Regions from separate parts of the Homo sapiens genome. Here region 1 is linked to region 2. The links come from fine-mapping of genetic effects on gene expression. A gene starts in region 2. The other region holds a variant in brackets. All regions are shown on one strand. Distances are between the middles of the regions. Region 1 overlaps KCNN3 (potassium calcium-activated channel subfamily N member 3). Region 2 holds the start of CHRNB2 (cholinergic receptor nicotinic beta 2 subunit).

Evidence for each region. PIP is the estimated chance that this variant, and not a neighbour inherited with it, causes the effect.
Region 1: its variant is fine-mapped to the expression of CHRNB2 in cerebellar hemisphere (GTEx, PIP 0.99).

Annotation. Positions count from the first base shown.
Region 1 is chr1:154,820,516-154,831,017 of GRCh38, forward strand. It overlaps KCNN3 (potassium calcium-activated channel subfamily N member 3), which reads right to left. Exons shown (of 8, transcript NM_002249.6): 2 at 1,574-1,669. Among named protein-coding and RNA genes, the nearest start is that of KCNN3, 45 kb to the right of the region's middle. The variant G/C (reference allele first, on the strand shown) is at 6,278.
Region 2 is chr1:154,562,368-154,570,814 of GRCh38, forward strand. It overlaps CHRNB2 (cholinergic receptor nicotinic beta 2 subunit), which reads left to right and starts at 5,411. Exons shown (of 6, transcript NM_000748.3): 1 at 5,411-5,741; 2 at 7,095-7,240; 3 at 7,425-7,469; 4 at 7,891-8,000. The coding sequence starts at 5,678. It overlaps LOC107985206 (a long non-coding RNA gene), which reads right to left and starts at 5,350. Exons shown (of 2, transcript XR_001738238.3): 1 at 5,057-5,350; 2 at 2,421-3,815. RefSeq lists a silencer at 5,582-5,711.

The sequences.
Region 1 (10,502 bases), 260 kb after region 2:
CACTGAGGGACTGCCTGGATCCCGCGGCTGGCTTTGGGTGGGGTGGAACCAGGCCCGGAGCCCAGACTGTCAACTTCTGTCCTGTCTCGATTCCGTGGCCCTAGTCCTCCCTGCCTGTACTCCTGGCTCCTTTCTGGGGCTGACTGGACAATGGTCTGAGTTAAAGTCCACCACTCTGTCCAATTCAGACTCCATGAAGGAAGCTGCCTGGTGGCATCTGGCACAGGCACAGCCCCTGTCCAAGCATCTGCAACCCTTTAGAGGCTGAAGAGTCCCAGCATCCAGGTCAGTATCCTCTAGTCATTGACAGAATGCAGCCCTGCCAAGGTGGCCTGGAGCCAAGGCTTCCATGTCCCAGCCAGCCACAGTGGCCCCTGACCTTCAGACAAAAAGCCAAGGCTCTCTAAGAGGAGGAGGCACTCCCACCTGCGTCCGCACTGCTGCTCCACCCTGAAAATGCCGAGTAACAAATGGGACTGGATTTGAACGGTGTTGTTAAATAGCGCTTCACAAAGCACTCTCCCATGCGCTCCTCATCCCATCCTCACAACAGCTCAGCAGAGCTGGAATAAAGGCCCCATGTTCTAGATGAGAAGATCGAGACCCAGGAAGGTCACAGGGCTGGCCAAAGACACACCAAGAAAAAAGGTCATGGCCGAGACTTGACCCCAGTTTTTCTGACTCTGAGCTCTGGTCTTCGTCAATCTCTCGCCTGCTGCCCAGATGTGAATCTATCTGTGCTCCTCCAGCCAAAGGACCGGGATGGTTTCCAGATTCACATGCACATGAGGAAAAACATCTGGATAGTTTAGAACTTCTCAGGTCCACAGCAGTGCAGGTCAGCCTGAAGGGCCGGGGGCTGGGGGAAGCTCATTGTCACCAGAAGATGCTTCAGATCTGTTCTCTCCTGTCTGACCCTCCTGGCCCGGGTTGAACCATCCTCCCTATGTCAGCCAAACTGGAAGTGCACCCTGGAGGCCCAGCCAATGTTTCTCTGGGTACCAAGTCACTCCTGGGCAGCAAGAAACAGAGGCCTTCTCGGCCACAGCAGACTCTTACTCTGTCTAGAAAATGACACCCCCAGCCTAGACCCACAAGGGTGAAGACCACACCATTCACAAAAAGCAGACTCCTTGGTGGAGTTTGGTGCAGCATATGTGGGGGTACACAAGGCAGGTCTGCCTCACTGAAGGGATGAACTGAGTGGCCCAAGTTCAGAAAGGACAAGAGACACAAAAGGCAGAGCAATGCATCAGGGGCTCTCCCGGTCCGATGGTGCTCAGTGAGGGTCCCGAATACGGCAGCCTCGCTCAACATGAAGCCCTATGTTTGCCTCTGGGATCCCCACTTTGAAGACAACTTAACAGTTATTCGAAAGCCACAGGGCGGCCTCGCAGTTTCCTCTCCCATTTGGGTCCAAACCAGAAGAGAAGAGCCACGATCTTGGGCACCGTCTTGTAAAATCACCCAAGTAGCTGCTAAGGGAGTGGGTTTTGGGGGTGGGGATGGGCTCGGCTCAGAGCAAGGCCAAAGGATCAGCCGCTGCATGAAGGGGTGAGGTGGGGGCACCTACCTGGACTTCACGTGTGTGGTAGGCGATGATCAAGCCCAAAAGGATGATGGTGGACAGACTGATAAGGCATTTCAGGGCCAACGAAAACATGGAGTCCTGCAGGAACAATGGAGAGAGAGAATTAGGGAGTGCGGGGAAAGGAGCGTCTCACTTTATTCTGCGGCTGTGTAAAAGAGAAGGGGTGGGGACACAGGAGGGACTGTTACCAGCCCCTCCTAGGAGCAGGTGTAGCACAAAGTCAGCCTGAGCCCCACAAAAGCCTTGGGCTGTGCCCGGGCCGGCTCTGTCTCAGCAGCTGCCCCCTTTGAGCCTCTGTTTTCTCGGGCTAAGTCGTATTTGCATTCCTGGGATGAACGCTACTTGGGCATGATGTATTATGTTTGTTATACACGGCTAGATTCAGTTTGCTGATGTGTTATTTAGAATTTGTGCTTCCATGCTCATAACTCATATGAACGTCATTCTTTGTTGTGCCGCTATTACATGGTTTGGGCATCAATATTACGCCAGCTTGGGCCTCTGTTTTCTCTTAAACCCAAACCAGAGGATTTCGGAGGCAGAATTCTTTCAGGAATGAATTTGAATGTCCCGGCAGCTGCTCTCATCTCCTGGCTTAGGCCAAGGGCAGGGGAGGGAGGCAGGGACGGCAGAGGAGCTACTGGAGAGAGAAGCCAGGAAGCACAGGAGCAGAGAGGGGTCCTGGCAGGAGAAGTACCCTGATGGTCCCTCCTGCTAGGGATTAGGTGGGGGAGGTGAGCCCCGTGGCCTCCACTGCAGCCTTTCAGTCCCAGGGCAGCTTAGAGAAACCGAGAAGTGTGGTTAAGGGCATGACCTCCGGGGCCAGACTGCTGGGTCCCAGCCCTGCGACAGCCATTTAGGGCTACCTGACCTTGGAACGCCCACTCCACCTCTCTGCACCAGCATGCCTCCTGTGTCAGATGGAGATAATATTCTGGACTACCTCACAGGGCTGTTGTGAAAATAAAGGAGTTAATGTATGCAAAGTGCCCAGAACAGTGCCTGGCCAAGTAAGTGTTAACTACCCTTATCATTTACTTTGCATCCTCTACAAATCAGGGTGTCTGGGTTGGAACTTGGTGCACCTCTGGGCATTTCGAAGCTGGAAGTAGAGATAGCTCCTAGTTCCAAAGGAAGGCGGGAACACAGCCCTGAGCAAAGGCAGCAGATGAGATCCAGGAAGCATTTCCAAGCAGTGACTGTGTGTATGGCGGCCCTGCACTTGGTCCTGAGTGGTGCACGCCACAAAAGAAACATTCCCTTCCTCAGGGAGCTGGTCATTAGAAGAATGATGCCTGATTTCTGGAAGGCACCTTACAGTTTACAAGGTGGTTTCACGTATTTGTTCTCATCCATCCTCACAACAGCCCTCGGCCTTTTACCTTATAGATATTACAGGCTGAGGCCCAGAGGAGGGTGGGTGGCTTGTGCCAGAATTCAAAGTCAAGGCCTCTGACTCGCAGTACAGAGCACTGCCCACAAGCCCTCAGGCACACTCTCCAATGGGAAACAACTTAGAAACATGGGAAGCATCCATTTAAATAGACCTAAATGACATCTTAAGACAACAAGGTAAGGTAGAGTATGATCAATTGCCAGAGTGAAACCTACAGTAGAGCTAGGGGAGCTCAAAGGAGGGAGGCCACTGTGGATGGGTCAGAGACAGCTTTCAGAGGCAGATGTGAGGAGCAGCTGAGATCTGTGGGGTGAGGCGGTATGTCCAATATGGCAACCACAAGAATGAGAGGAGGGCTTGGGACTCGAACCCAGGACTTCCAAGTGCCCAGGTCCATGCTCTCGGCCCCACTCTGTGTGCTGAGATGGAATGAAAGTGCTCTCCCTGATGTCTATTAATCTCCCCATTCATTTAATTGGTACAGTTCTTGAGGCCCACTGGAGATACAAAGAAAACTAATAAAGTAACTAATTCATTCACTCTTTCACAAAAATTTCAACCACTTCTCATTTGCTGAGCACTTGCTAGATATCCAACAGTGTGCTAGATTCTATATATACAGTGATATACACCAGAAGCTTCTGATCTGGCTTATTCACTAACTCTGACTTTCTACATTGCATGGGGTCGTCCAACTATGGGAAAAGGTCTCCATTATTTGCTATGCATAAGATGATCTACACATAAGCCAGTCTTCTTTTAGCCTCTTCATGTTCCACAGTTCCATAAGAGCAGCCTGCAATCATTTACTCAGCACACATGTATGGGGGCCTAAGGAGGGCTGGTGCTGTTCTGGTCCAACATAAGCACAGAGAAGGACAGAACACAGTGCTGGCCCTCAAAAATATTTTGATCTTCACAAGCACTTCCTGGTGCCTGAAATGCTACCCAACCACAAGACCCAGATGGGGCTGAAAAGAGCAAATGGTGAATTCAGGAACACTCAGACTGTATTAGGGTAAAACAAACCTCCCTACATCAATCAACTGGGGATCAACTGGGGACAGCTCACAATGTTTTCCATCCAGAAATGACCATAACTTTCTTTTCAAAGGGGTCTGAAAGCATCTGGGAGCATCACACCTCCCCGGGAAGGATTTGGGATCAGCTGCACATTTCAGCCCCTTATTTATTTCTTTTGGCAGCAATGAATTGACATCAGAATCCAAGTCTATTTCCATCATTTTAAAGGAAGCAGTGAAGGGAAAGGGGCCAGATGCTCTCTCCTTTGGGCCTCTTCCTTTTGTCCTAAAGCTCAAAACCTTTACATGAACAGGCAACTCCCACCTGCTTCTTGGTTTTGGCCAGTACAACCTCCCTGGCCAGCTCCAGCCCTGTGGGATGACCAAGCTGTGTGCTGGATCAACAGGGACTCTCGATATCTTACAGATTTCTTTGCATTCTCCATCGCATGTCAATAAAAAAAATTAACCAACCGCTTTTAATAGCTGGAAAACATGTCAAAGAAGTCTGGCTGAACTAGGAATGTTTTCTATTTGGTAAAATGTTGAATTAGCATCTTCTCTTTGCTGCCTGAACATCAGTGAAGCTTGAAATTGATATGGTTCCTTGGGGGATGGCAGTGACACCGGGCTGCCATACATCCCAGGATAGGGTACCTGCCACACGCATTGCCCCCACTCACTCCTATCTGAGGACCAATAAGGGGCTTGTAGAACAGAGGGAATCCAGCGGTCAACTGGTCAACCCTTCTGCCCCGTGACTCAGAACTTTTCAACACAGAGTAACAATCCTTAACACACAGGAATGCTTAGGAATTATATCCCATTTGATGAGAATCATTTTTTTTTTTTTTTTTTTGAGACAGAGTCTTGCTCTGTCTCCCAGACTGGAGTGCAGTGGCACGATCTCAGCTCACTGCAAGCTCTGCCTGCCGGGTTCATGCCATTCTCCTGCCTCAGTCTCCCCAGCAGCTGGGACTACAGGCGCCCGCCACTACACCCGGCTAATTTTTTTGTATTTTTAGTAGAGATGGGGTTTCACCGTGTTAGCCAGGATGGTCTCGATCTCCTGGCCTCAAGTGATCCACCCGCCTCGGCCTCCCAAAGTGCTGGGATTACAGGCGTGAGCCACCGCGCCCAGCTGAGAGTCATGTTTTAAAGTCATTTATTCCTAAATGCCCACAAATTTTCAAGTGGTTAAGTAGATTTGAGATCAGGCAGTGATGGAACACTACGCAGCCACTAAAAACACTTCTGCACACGGCCGTAATCCCAGCACTTTGGGAGGCCGAGGTGGGCAGATCACGAGGTCAGGAGATCGAGACCATCCTGGCTAACACAGTGAAACCTCATCTCTACTAAAAACACAAAAAATTAGCGGGACGTGGTGGCAGGCGCCTGTAGTCCCAGCTACTCGGGAGACTGAGGCAGGAGAACGGCATGAACCCGGGAGGCGGAGCTTGCAGTGAGCCGAGACAGTGCCACTGCACTCCAGCCTGGGTGAAGAGCGAGACTCCATCTTAAAAAAAAACAAAAACAAAAACAAAAACAAAAACAAAAACAAAAAAAACCAAAAAACACTTCTGCAGACAATATCTGAAGACATGGAGAATGGTTGATGATAGACTATTAAGTGATAAACTCAGACCCCAAAACGATATGTAGTATATTTCCAATTATTTCATTTTTAAGCTTTTTTAGTGTAGAAAAAGACTGAAAATATGTCAATAGAATTCCTAAGAGCTGCCTCCATCCATGTGGTCCCTGTTCTGCTCCAGGCCACGAGCCAGCCCTTCACAGATCTGTGATTTCTCATTGATGACAATAATCTGTAATAAAGCACATCTATAGGGGCCTACCATGCAAGGATGGCATTGTCAACCCACTCTTACAGAGGAGAAAGCTTAAGCTCTCAGAAGTTAGGTAACTTGTCCAAGGGCATGTTACCTAACTTCTCACCATGGCAAAGCCAGGATTTGCAAAAGCCAGGTTTTACACCCAGATCTGTCTGCCTCCAGGTTCCATTGCCCCGCCTGTGTCCCAGCACCCCACCTGCTCTGGCGGCCACGCCTTGCTGGCCCTCCAATATCTGCAGCGAGGCTTCTTAGAGCTGTTCCAGCCTTTCCTCCCCTGAGGCTGTGCAGAGGGTGATGGAGTGTGTTCCCCAGCTTCTGAGCCAGCCACATAAATTGCTCTCCTGGCCTGCCTTGTAGCTTCCAAAAACAGGCCAGAACTGTAATGATTATGGTATATCTTCCCAGAGACTTT[G/C]AAGTTCTAAATGTATTTTATTGTTTGGGTCATCGCAAAAAGGAGAAAGCTATGCTTACAGACAGAGACCTGGAGGGGCACTGAACCAAACTGAAATATTAGCTTAACTGAGATAATGATGCGCAGGCTCCTTCCCCAACCAAGCTGTTACCCACAAAGAGTATATGTGTATGGTTGTGTGTGTGTGTGTTTATACACATATGTGGTCCATTCACGATTTCTGTCACTGGCTGAAACCCCCAAAGGGAAAAGGTGATAGTATCTGAAGTTCATAATTTCTGAATTAAGGTCTGATGTGCCTGCCTGACATCACTATGTTTTGTGCATTCAATCTGGGAAATAATTGATTTAGAAATCTTTTCTATCTAATAAGGTCAACTTTTCCTTCAATTTCATGGAGAGGCTCCAAAATTGATTGATATTCAACATCGGCTTATGACTGTGGTTCTGTAATGGTTGTCCTAATTAGATACTCTTGCTAATTAATGCTATGCAAATTAAACCAGCCCCTCTTCCGCTAAAGGGAAGACCGCATCACTGGTCGCTGTTCTCCATGGAGACCTGAGGCTTCTTTCCCTCCACATCAGCACCAAGCCCTGGCCTTCCTCATTCCTCAATCTCACACTGTCCAGTTCTTGGGATCTTTCATTCTTACCCATCATCCTCAGCTCCTATCTTAGCACAGCCTCCTCCTCCCAGGTGCAGCACCCTAATTTAATTGCAAGCCCAGGCGTGGTGGCTCACGCCTGTAAGTCCAACACTTTGGGAGGCCAAGGCAGGTGGATCACTTGAGGTCGGGAGCTCAAGACCGGCCTGGCCATCATGGTGAAACCCCATCTCTACTAAAAATACAAAAATTAGCTGGGCATGGTGGTGCAAGCCTGTAGTCTCAGCTTCTCAGGAGGCTGAGGCAGGAGAATGGCTTGAACCCAGGAGGCAGAAGTTGCAGTGAACCGAGATCACACCACTGCACTCCAGCCTGGGAGACAGAGCAAGACTCTGTCTCAATAATAATAATAATAATAACAACAACAATAATAATAATAATTGCAGCTGTTGGCCCTCCCAGCATCCTCAGAGCGGCTTCCCAACCTGGCTCCTACCAGAAGTCAGCTAACAGAATCCTGTTTCAGTCACTAATGAATGAAGTGACAGAATGAAGTCACTCAGACCCTCTCTCTCCCAGGACTGTCCAACCTGAGACCGGGAGAGACAGCCGATGCTGTCACAGTGGGAAGGGAGACTCTGGGGACTCCAGAGGGCAGCTGGACCTCTGACCAGCCTGAGAAGGGAGAAGGGCCTGATACTTGCTAGCCAAGACAGCTCTGGAACAGAGGCCCAGGGTGTGCATCCGAGGGCGCAGGAGTCTCAGCCTCCTCCATAGTGAATGCCTGGCCTGGACAAGTTGCTTCCTTCTCCTAAGCCTCAGCCCCCAGTAAAATGAGACTCCTGGACAGAACCTTCTCCGAAGTTCAGTTAAGCCTGATGACCAAGGCGCCGAGCACACATGCCATGACAAACAGGTCATAGGGACATGTCCAACACTCATTCCTTTTTTTTTTTTTCTTAGGAGTTTTCTTTTCCCAGGCATTTCTGTGATGAAATGTTGGGTGTGAAACGGTCAGCCACAAAACCCACTCACACCATCTTCTCCTCAAACACAACAAGGCAAGCTTCCTATTTTTAGTCATGGGGGGGCTAACGAAGATGTTCCTTGTCTCTTTCTAAATAACATAGGATTTGAAACCAAAAGGCCAGAGTTCAAGTCATGTCTTTGCTACTAACTAGCTGTGTGACACTGGATCGGTCCTTTAACCTCTCTGGGCCTCTGGTTTCTTCTCTGCAAACAAGAACTACCCTTACTTTTCTCACAGCTGTTAGGGGATGAGATGAGATCATGCATACGAAAAATCTCATTCTGTTTTCACACAAAGAGAAGCATGCATTCCCTTGTAGTCAAACACCCCTTCTCTTGCCATACAGATGTCAGTGCAGGTAAATGCAGCTGATCCTCAGTCCGGAGCTGCTCACTGCACCCCCAATATCAGCATTTTATGGCTGCAATAATTTATAAAGATATCCCTGAGGCATTTCAGAAAGACACCTTTGCAATCCGCATAGCCAAACATTCATTCACTTGTGCATTCATACAACATATATTCACTGAGCACTTACCATGCCCAGGCACTGTGCTGGGCAATTGCCAAATGCCAGGGATTCCCCACCCGCTCCAACCCCAACCTGCTGAGCCTGAATCCCATCCAGGAGCTCCCAGGAGCTCATCCCAAGGGCTGCCCTCTGCACCATCATCGCCCCGTCACCTTGACATCCCATCCTGTCCCTCTTGGACACTCTCCCTGGCCTCTCTGTCCTGCCCACAGTGCAAGGTCAAGAAGAGATGGGCCAAGGGTCAGGTCAGGGGGCCCTGGAGGACACATCAGGCTGGGACAGCCAGGAATGGGCAGGAAGCCCAGGCTGAGGGAGAAAACCCACAAGTGGTTCCTTTGCGCTCGAGTGACCAGCTCTCTCCACGGCAGAGCTCAAGAATGGATATTAGAGGCCAAGCTCCAGGAACCTTTCCTGCCTGCCTGAGCCCACTGTGTGGGTGAGGACATCTTTACCACAGGTCCCAGGGGCTGGAGATGGGGCTAAACCTCACTGCCACCTTTTCTCCAGCCCAGTCACCTTCTTACATGAAGCTTCTGTTCTGGGCCCACCCCTCAACCCCACAGCCAGGGGATGCTTGAGGTGGATCCCCAGTGGGCGGAAAGCTGAGACAAGACCATCCACACTCTCCTCTCAGTCCCAGGAGCCAGCCAGGCATCATGAGCCAGCTGACCCGCATCAGGATGCGGGGTCTGACCTAGACCCGAGAGCAGGTGGCTCCTCAGAGCCCTGTCTTCAGTCCTCCTGTGCCCTCCTCAGCCCCCATCCCTGAACGGGGTCCATATACCCACCATCGAAGCTGGGAGCCATTACCTGCTTTAATAGTACACAGGGTAACCTCAGCACCAGGAACCCCGCTGGTCTGCCCTGGGCCCCACACCCTTCCCGAGGCTGGCCATGCCTGGTGTCTCCCATTGGCACTGCCCAGCTGGGGTGACCAGAGCACCTTTCACCATCTGACCCCATTTTCCCACTGATGTTGTTCTCACACCCCCACCAGAGTGTCAACCCCAGAGGGCAGGGAATTTTTACATTGCATTTGTTCACTCCTAGAGCCCCATGCCTAGAACACTGGTCTGGCACATAGTAAGTCAATAAATATTAGTTGAACGTTGAATATTTGAAGGAAGGGAGCAAAATTTTTGAGATATGTCAAGCAGGTAGACACTTCCATCCTGAATTTCCAAATTCATCAAAACTAAAGAGAGGTGATGAAAGTAACAGCTAACATTTATTATTCACTTACCAGAGGCCAGGTACTGTGCTAATTTCGTTAGGTCCTCAGAACAACCCATGGCCCCATTCTAGAGATGAGGGATCTGAAGCCTGGAGAGGGTCACATTCCCACCGTCCCTGGATGAGGAAGAGGTGGGGGCTAGATTCAAACCTGTGCTCTCACCACTGATCCAGAGGGAACCTCAGGAAGACAGGATGGCAATTGCCAGAACATCACCCTTGCAGGCCCTGCCCTTACCGGTCCCACCTGCTCTCTGAAGAAGCCCCCAGTTGTGTGGCTTTAGTGGTGTGATAGATGGTGAACAGACTGAGCTCAGGGCTTGGGGTCTTCACCGTCTCTGCAGACTGGGCCCGGCACGGGGAAACTAGGCAGATAATACTTGTGGCGTGAAGGAAGCCAGTGGTCTCGACACAAAACTCATAAAGTCAAGTTGCCCTGGAGCATTTCCCTGGATCTCTACGTTGCCACTCCCAGAAGGAGACGGAACCTGATGTCTGAGGGACATCATGCAGTTAATAACAAGGGCATTCAGGTCTGAGCAGAGGGTGGCCTACTAATTTTTAGTGAAGCCAGCATGATGACCAGGACACCAATTAAGAGAAAATGATCCTCCCCAGGCCCTGGCTCTCCCATTGTGTGATGTCCCAAGGAAGGCAGAAAAAGGTCATTTAGGAGACCACGCTCCCAAAATATCAAGTCAGACGGGGCACCCCTTCAGGCCACAAACATAATTCCAATTAAGGAGATGGTTTCCTTTATAAGGTCTGGGCAGAGGGGAACTGGCATATCATGAATTCTCTACTGCATGCTTGCTTATAATTT
Region 2 (8,447 bases):
AAAGGGAAAACTGTAGCTGTGAAAAATAGTTATCAAAAATACTTATTGGTATGGAGAGTTGTTTGAGAAATAGTAAATGAAAAAAGATTAGACTGAAGTGAGCTGAAGATTTAAAAAAGAAAGGTGGTTACAAAGCTATGTTACAGTGTGCTCCATTAAAAAAAAAATATGCGATTTAGTTATGTACCCAACAGAAATGCATATACAGTCATGTGTCAGTTAATGGTGGGATACATTCTGAGAAATGTGTCTCAGTGGTTTTTTTGTTGTGTGAACATCATAGTGTACTTACACAAACCTAGATGGTGTAGCCTACTACACACCTAGCCTATAGGGTCTAGACTATGGCTCCTAGGCTACAAACCTGTACTGCATGTTATACTGTAGTGAATACAGTTGCTGCATTCCCCGTGCCCACTAGAATTCCTGCAATTACTGTAGGCAGTTGAAACCCAATAATATGTATTCATGTATCTATCTAAACACAGGAAAGGTACAGCAAAAATACAGTGTTATAATTTTATGGGGGCCACCTTTGTATATTGCAATCTTGTTGACTGAGAAGTCATTACATGGTACATGACTGTATTTGTATACCAAAAGTATGAACAAGAGTGTTCACAGCAGTATTATTTTTTAATAGTCCAAATAGGAAACAACCAAAATATCCATCAATAGTGAAACGGATAAATGATAGTGTATTCATACAATGGAATAGTCCACAGCAATGAAGATGAATGAACTACAACTATATTCAGCAGTGTTCACGATTCTCACTAACATGTTTTTTAAAAAAACAGACACAGGCCGGGCATGGTAGCTCACACATGTAATCCCAGCACTTTGGAAGGCCGAGGCAGGTGGATCACCTGAGGTCAGGAGTTCAAGACCAGCCTGACCAACATGGTGAAACCCCATCTCTACTAAAAATGCAAAAAAATTAGCCGGGTGTGGTGGCACATGCCTGTAATCCAAGCTACTCAGGAGGCTGAGGCAGGAGAATTGCTTGAACCCGGGAGGCGGAGGTTGCAGTGAGCCAAGATCATGCCATTGCACTCCAGCCTGGGCAACAAGAGCAAAACTCCCATCTCAAAACAAACAAACAAACAAAAAAAACCAGACACACACTGAAGATGATGATTCCATTTTTCCATTTATAAAAAGTTCCACAGGCAAAGTCGATCTATGCTATTAGAAGACAGGACAGTAGTTATTTATTTTACCTTCAGTCATTTTTTTAAAATTGTGGTAAAATTACACATAAAATCTGCCACTTTAACTAATTTAAAGTGTATGACTCAGTGGCATTCAGTGCATTCACAAGTTGTATAACCATTACTACTGTCTAGTTCCAGGTAAGTAGTCACCACCTCCCATTCCTCCCTCCTCCCAAGGTGTTTTTTTTTTGAGATGGAGTCTCGCTCTGTCGCCCAGGCTAGAGTGTGCAGTGGTGCGATCTCGGCTCACTGCAAGCTCCACCTCCCGGGTTCACGCCATTCTCCTGCCTCAGCCTCCCGAGTAGCTGGAGCTACAGGTGCCCGCCACGATGCCCGGCTAATTTTTTTTATATTTTTAGTAGAGACGGGGTTTCACTGTGTTAGGATGGTCTCGATCTCCTGACCTTGTGATCCACCCGCCTCAGCCTCCCAAAGTGCTGGGATTACAGGTGTGAGCCATCACGCCTGGCCCCAAGGTGTTACTTTTGAAGAAGAGAGAGTAACTGCTGGAAGGGTCATCATGGGGACTTCTGGATATTAGTTATGTGTGTTTCTTTAAAAAAAAAAATCTAAATTGCGGCTATATGGCTGTGTTTATGTTGTGAAAATTTAGCTGTACACTTGTATATACTTTGCTGTATGAATGTTATATCCGAGTATATATAGATAAATTTGGAGGGGTATGTGTGTGTGTGAAATATATTATTGCTAACACTGATTTTTTTCCTGGGAGGTAGGAGTATGAATCCATTTTGTACTTACTATGTTTTGCTGACTTGTTTTCCAATTGGTATTCATGACGAATACATGTATTACTTTTGTAATAAAAATTTTAAAATTTAAAACATCTTTTTTTTTTTTTTTGAGATGGCGTCTCATTCTGTTGCCCAGGCTGGGAGTGAAGAAGTGGTGCAATCTCGGCTCACTGCAACCTCTGCCTCCCAGGTTCAAGCAATTCTTCCTGCCTCAGTCTCCTGAGTAGCTGGGATTACAGGCATGCGCCACCACACCAGGCTAATTTTTGTATTTTTCAGTAGAGACCGGGTTTCACCACGTTGGCCAGGCTGGTCTTGAATTCCTGATCTCAGGTGATCTGCCTTGGCCTCCCTAAGTGCCAGGATTACAGGTGCGAGCCACCACACTCAGCCTAAAACGCCTTAAATAAAGGACAATAACATTGATTTTAAGCCTTTCCCCCCAACCTTTTTTTTTTTTTTTTTTTTTGAGACAGGGTCTGGCTCTGTTGCCCAGGCTGGAGTTCAGTGACATAGTCTCGGCTCACTGCAACCACCTCCACGGCTCACGATATCCTCCCTCCTCAGCCTCCCAAGTACTGGGAGGTGTTGCCCAGGCTGGGAGCACGTGCCACCACACCTGGCTAATATTTTTAAATTTTTTGTAGAAACAGGGTTTCACCATGTTGCCCAGGCTGATCTTGAACTCTTGAGCTCAGTCCATCCACCTGCCCCAGCCTCCCAAAGTGCTTGGATTACGGACGTGAGCCACCGCTTTCCACCAATTTTAAGCCTTTCAAGAGAAAACATTCCTTATCATCAGTGGCAATGGGAGTGTCTCACCAAAACTTTGCCCAATTACTCTTTAGCCTCAGGATTGATACTTCTGCATCTGTTCATCACCCTCTGTGGTTCTGGACCTGTCCACTCTTCCTGGCTGCCTTTCTTCTTGGTGGGTATGGAAGGAGTATGTGTGGGAGAGATGAGGAAGGAGGTGTTCCCGCCCTGCTTGGACACTGGGTGGTTGTGCTCAGAAGACTCACTCCTTGCCAGGCTGGAAGTAAACTTGAAGCAAAAGCTGGGGGATTTGAGAAGAGAAGGTAGACTGGCCTGGAAGTTGCATCAGGAGAAGCCAGAGGCTTTAAGCAAGCAAATGACCCCCTAGTTTCTCATCCCATAAACAAGCAACCATTACAGAAAGAGATTTTTGTTAAGAGAAGACTTTCACAGCCTTCCTCAATCATTCTGCATCCACCAAAACTCCCTGTATTTCTTAGGAGTTTGGAATACCTTTAAGTCATCCTTGTCTTAATGACTTTCTCACCTTTCAAATCTCAATTTTCATCTTCATCCCTTCTAGGTTCTTAGACACTATTAACCTCTTCTTCCTCTGTGCTTCCATCCATAGCACTTCCTTTATATGTCTGTTAGAACAGCCATCACATTCTATAATAATTTGCTGCCAAACTGTGATCTCCTTAATAGCTGGGACTAAGTCTTTTTGATCACTGCATCTTCAACACATATGGTCCACAACACACATGCAGTTTCCTGGCAAACCACATATACCTAACAAATGTTGATCTAAATTGTTGAAGGAAGATCTTCCCACCCTCTATCTTTTCCTTAAGCAGAGGGACTACACACATTCCTTCTCTTTTCCTTAAGGCTTTTCTTCACTACTTTTCTTTGTTACAAGGTTTCTTTAATTCTTAAGAGATTATTGTGCGCTTACACATGCGCATGCCCCGGAACAAGTCGTGCAGATTTACGCCCATTTCCATGTGCATCATGGGGTCTGTAGTCCTTCTACTTCTCCAGTCCTCTTCTAGAACTTTTCTGCTTCTTCCCTTAATTCCACGACCTGGGGACATGGTCAATAAGTTGCTTTTAGCTGGGCTTTTATTTATTTATTTGTTTAGTTTTTGAAATGGGGTCTTGCTTCATTGCCCAGGCTGGAGTGCAGTTGCGCCATCATGCCCCAAACTGCAGCCCCGACCTCCCTGGCTTAAGTGATCCTCCCACCTCAGCCTCTCGAGTAGCTGGGACTATAGGCACACACCATCATGCCCGACTAATTTTTAAACTTTTTGTACACACGTGATCTCATTATGTTGCCCAGGCTGGTTTCAAACGCCTGGGCTCAAGTGATCCTTCTGCCTCAGCCTTTGAAAGTGCTGAGATTACGGGCTTAAGTCACCTCTCCTGGTCCCTAGCTGAGCTTTTAGAGAGAAATTTTCCCTACACATTAAAAAGTGTCAGTCCAGTACTAGCCCTTTTCCTTACCTGTTGAGCCCTTATAATAATATGCCAGGCACTGTGTTGATTCATAATCTAGAGAGGCAGCCACTGCCTCAGGTGGATTCATTTATTCATTGGACATGCTCTGGAAACATATAACAAAGTATCTGATCTAGTTCTTGGTCAGGCGCAGCTTCCTTAAGGAATTGACATTCCTGCCAAATGCTCAAAGTTAAGTAGAAGGTGATGAGGGGAACATGGGTTATAAAAGAGCCCAAGAGAACCATGCATTTAAGTCCCTGAAGTGTGGGGGATGATGGGACGGATAAGATGTTCAAGGATCCTGAAGACCTTGCCAATAGTTGGAATGTGGAGCTGGGGGTGGAGTGACCCAGATGAGGTTGAAGTAAGCAGGGACAAAACAGGACAGAGCCTTGCTGTATGCTAAGTCTGCTTTAGTCAGGAATCTTTTGGTTGAAAGTGACAACGAACCCACTGAAGGAAAAAAAGGGGCTAAGAGTTCAGGGTTCTCATCTTTGGTCTCCTTTGTGTTAGCTTCTCTCTTGATCAGGCCTCTGTGAGTGGTCTCTGATCTCCCTAGTCACACAGAAGCCAACAGCTGGAGTCAAGAGAAGGGGGTGAGGAAGGCCGATGAATAGGGGCTACTTGTCTTTCCACTATTACCCTCAAGTCTACCTTCTTTGCAGGCAAGTCTAGACCTCCTCAGGTAGACCCTCAGTGGGAGGGCAGGAAGCTTAGCCTTTTAGACTCCAAAGCCGTTTGCTTTCTTAAAAATAGCAAACCCACAGCCCCCTATCTCTTTAAGGGGCTAAACACATTTTCTCTGCTGTATCCTCAGCCTACCTGGGGAGCAGGACCATTTGGGTTTGGTAAGAGAAAAAAGGAGGGCGAAAACCCCGGACACTCCTCCTGTCTCCCGACGCTCGTTCTGGCCGTCTGGCCCTCAGTACTAAGCAGGCCCTGACCTACTTGTCTTACTCTTGCTGCTTCTTCCCGCCGGGCCTCTTGCCCCTTCTCCGACCATGCTGCAGGTCCTGCCCCAACTTTAGGACTTCAGAACTCCTCCACCGTGCCGTGGAGGAACAGCCCTTCTTCCACCTCACGCACACCCTACCACGGCAGAACCAATCGAAGACTATCCCAGCCGGGGACCCCCCTTTTTTTTCCTGGGACCCAGCGTTTCCGCCTCCGGGGCGCAGACTCCTCCCCCTCACCGTCCCAATTGTATTCCCTGGAAGAGCAGCCGGAAAAGCCTCCGCCTGCTCATACCAGGATAGGCAAGAAGCTGGTTTCTCCTCGCAGCCGGCTCCCTGAGGCCCAGGAACCACCGCGGCGGCCGGCACCACCTGGACCCAGCTCCAGGCGGGCGCGGCTTCAGCACCACGGACAGCGCCCCACCCGCGGCCCTCCCCCCGGCGGCGCGCTCCAGCCGGTGTAGGCGAGGCAGCGAGCTATGCCCGCGGCATGGCCCGGCGCTGCGGCCCCGTGGCGCTGCTCCTTGGCTTCGGCCTCCTCCGGCTGTGCTCAGGTAAGGGAAAGACGGGCACTGGCCAGGTTCTCCTACCCCAGCCAACGGCCCAAGACTCGCCGCCCTCTGACTCACCCCTGCTAGGCCGGAAGGTGGAAGAAGGGATTCCCTAGAGGTGGGGGAGTCTGCTGGAGGTTAGGGGAGAGCCCCCCGGGACTGCAGAGAGCACCTGGGAGGCTGGACTGGGAACGAGACATACTCGAAGGAGTAAGTGAAGCAAGAAAGAGATGGAAACCTGGCCAGCGGTGGTAGGGGTGGTGCAGGCACAGAGAGCAAGGAGGCAGGGGATCTCCCCAGGCGTCCTGGGGTGGCAGGAGGCCGGCTCTGAGGGCGCTAAGATGCCATCTGACTTTTTGTGAAACATTATCTCAAGAAAGGTACCTGGACCAGCACCCCTCCCCGGGCTCCCCATCGTTTCCCATCCCCCACATTGGGCTCCAGATTCTCGTCACCCCTCAGGGGCAGAGAAGGGGAGAAAACGGAACGGACTTTTCAACCCTCCTGTAGGGTGGGACAGGAGGCTTGGAAGGGAAGAAGCTCTGCCAGGCTGAGGACTAGGAAGGAACTCTCTGAGGGGATGGGGAGGGGTGTGTTCGTGCAGAGTTGCAGAGGGGGATGCAGTGTGCCGGGGAGGGGCAGGTACAAAGGGAATGCACAACTGAATGAGCTTTCCACACCTACAGGCCACCTCTAGGGGTGGGCTGCTGTGTGTGTGAAACTTGGGGCTACATATATGCCTGACCCACAGCTTAGGCAGCCCAGCTATTCCACTCCAACCCAGTGCCTTTAGGGAGAGGGGAGGATGGCATCGTGACCACAGTCACATGTCATTACGTGAGGCACATAATGTCATTTGCACATGTAAATGGTGAACGGGAACAGTTATTTGTGTCCCACCACACATACACTTTCTCCTCAATCGGCAGGAGAAAGGATGTGTGTGGTGGGACACAAATAACTGGGACAAATAACTGTTCACCTTCACTGCCCTGCTAAACCTCCCTTGAGTCATAGGTATTTGCTGGGGAAGCCATGGAAGCAGAAATCTCAAACTGCCCTCTGAGACTTTGGGGGAAGAGCAGGTCTCCATGAATCCTTGCAGAGTGGGTTCTTAGTCTCAAGTCATCTCTGTGGAGCTGTGTAGACTCTTTGGTCAGTGGTCTCAGAGAGGGGCTTTTCTATGAAGACATTAATCTGGGGCCTCCCTGGGGTTAATCTAAGCATTTTGCAGTATCCTTAGGGATGTAGGGAGATACTGGTTGGGCCTGGATTGTCCCATTTGCCTGGGGAGGGTGGGATGCTGGGTGGGCTCTCCTTGCCTGCTTACTTTCGTCCTGCCTTTCCCCTGCCCAGGGGTGTGGGGTACGGATACAGAGGAGCGGCTGGTGGAGCATCTCCTGGATCCTTCCCGCTACAACAAGCTTATCCGCCCAGCCACCAATGGCTCTGAGCTGGTGACAGTACAGCTTATGGTGTCACTGGCCCAGCTCATCAGTGTGGTGAGTAGAGGTCCCAGGCTCTCTGCCCAGCTACTGAAATCAGCCCCGCCAAAATGTGTTAATGCTTGTGTGCTTCCTCCCCTGGTGTTTCCAAGGCTTGGGGAGGTGTGAGAGGGACCCTGGGTGGTGGCAGTGACCCCACAGGCTTAGGGGCCTTCTCGGCAGCCTCTCTTCCTCCCTGCAGCATGAGCGGGAGCAGATCATGACCACCAATGTCTGGCTGACCCAGGTAAGCGTAAGTGCTCTCTTCCACCCACACCCCTGGCCTTCTCTCTCCTCCTTTTTCCCCATGTGCTTTTTTCTTTCTTAATCTCTCAAAACAGGCAGAAAGGTATAGAGTTTGGAGTCCTAAACAATTGGATTTGAATCTTGGCACTCACCAGCCTTGTGACTTTAAACATATTAAACTCTCCAAGATTCATTTTCTCATTTGTAAATGTAGATTCTAATACTGTACCTTGGCCTAGCTGTGCAAATTAAATGAGAAAGTACCACATGAGCCATACCTGATGGGCAGAGAAGTCACTGTGGGGAAGAGGCTGGCTTTTAAAAGGTCCCTCAAGCCATATGGGCCCCCTCTAGTTCGTTTCCTTAACCTTGAGCCCCACCCAGGGCACAAGTTGGTACTGCCTCCCTCTCTCATTTCCCAGGAGTGGGAAGATTATCGCCTCACCTGGAAGCCTGAAGAGTTTGACAACATGAAGAAAGTTCGGCTCCCTTCCAAACACATCTGGCTCCCAGATGTGGTCCTGTACAACAAGTAGGTGCAATGGGAAGGTTGGGGGAGACCATTGGAGGGCTCAGGGAGGGAAGGGGTTCTGGGGAAAATAAGAGAAATTACTTATGCTGTGGGAGGGGAGGGACTTATAATAGATATGTAGTCACTACCTAGACAGACAGACCCAGACCAGTGAGGTACAGCGTGGACAGCCAAGGTGACCTGGGCAATGACCAGCCCACTCCCAGCCGGTTAGGACTCCCAGTATGTATTTGATGATGTGGTGGGGATACAAACAAGTATTGACAGCCCCCAGCGCCTCAACTGATTCAGGAACAGGCTTTCCTGGAAGCCTGGGAAGGATCAAAGAACTTTAAGGTCCCAGTTTCTCCTCCAGGTTCTATCCTGTCTCCTGCAATAATCCATCTTATCTCTAGGGTACAAAGCCACCTTCCTCAACTGATGGGACCATGCCCTGTCCCCTTCCAT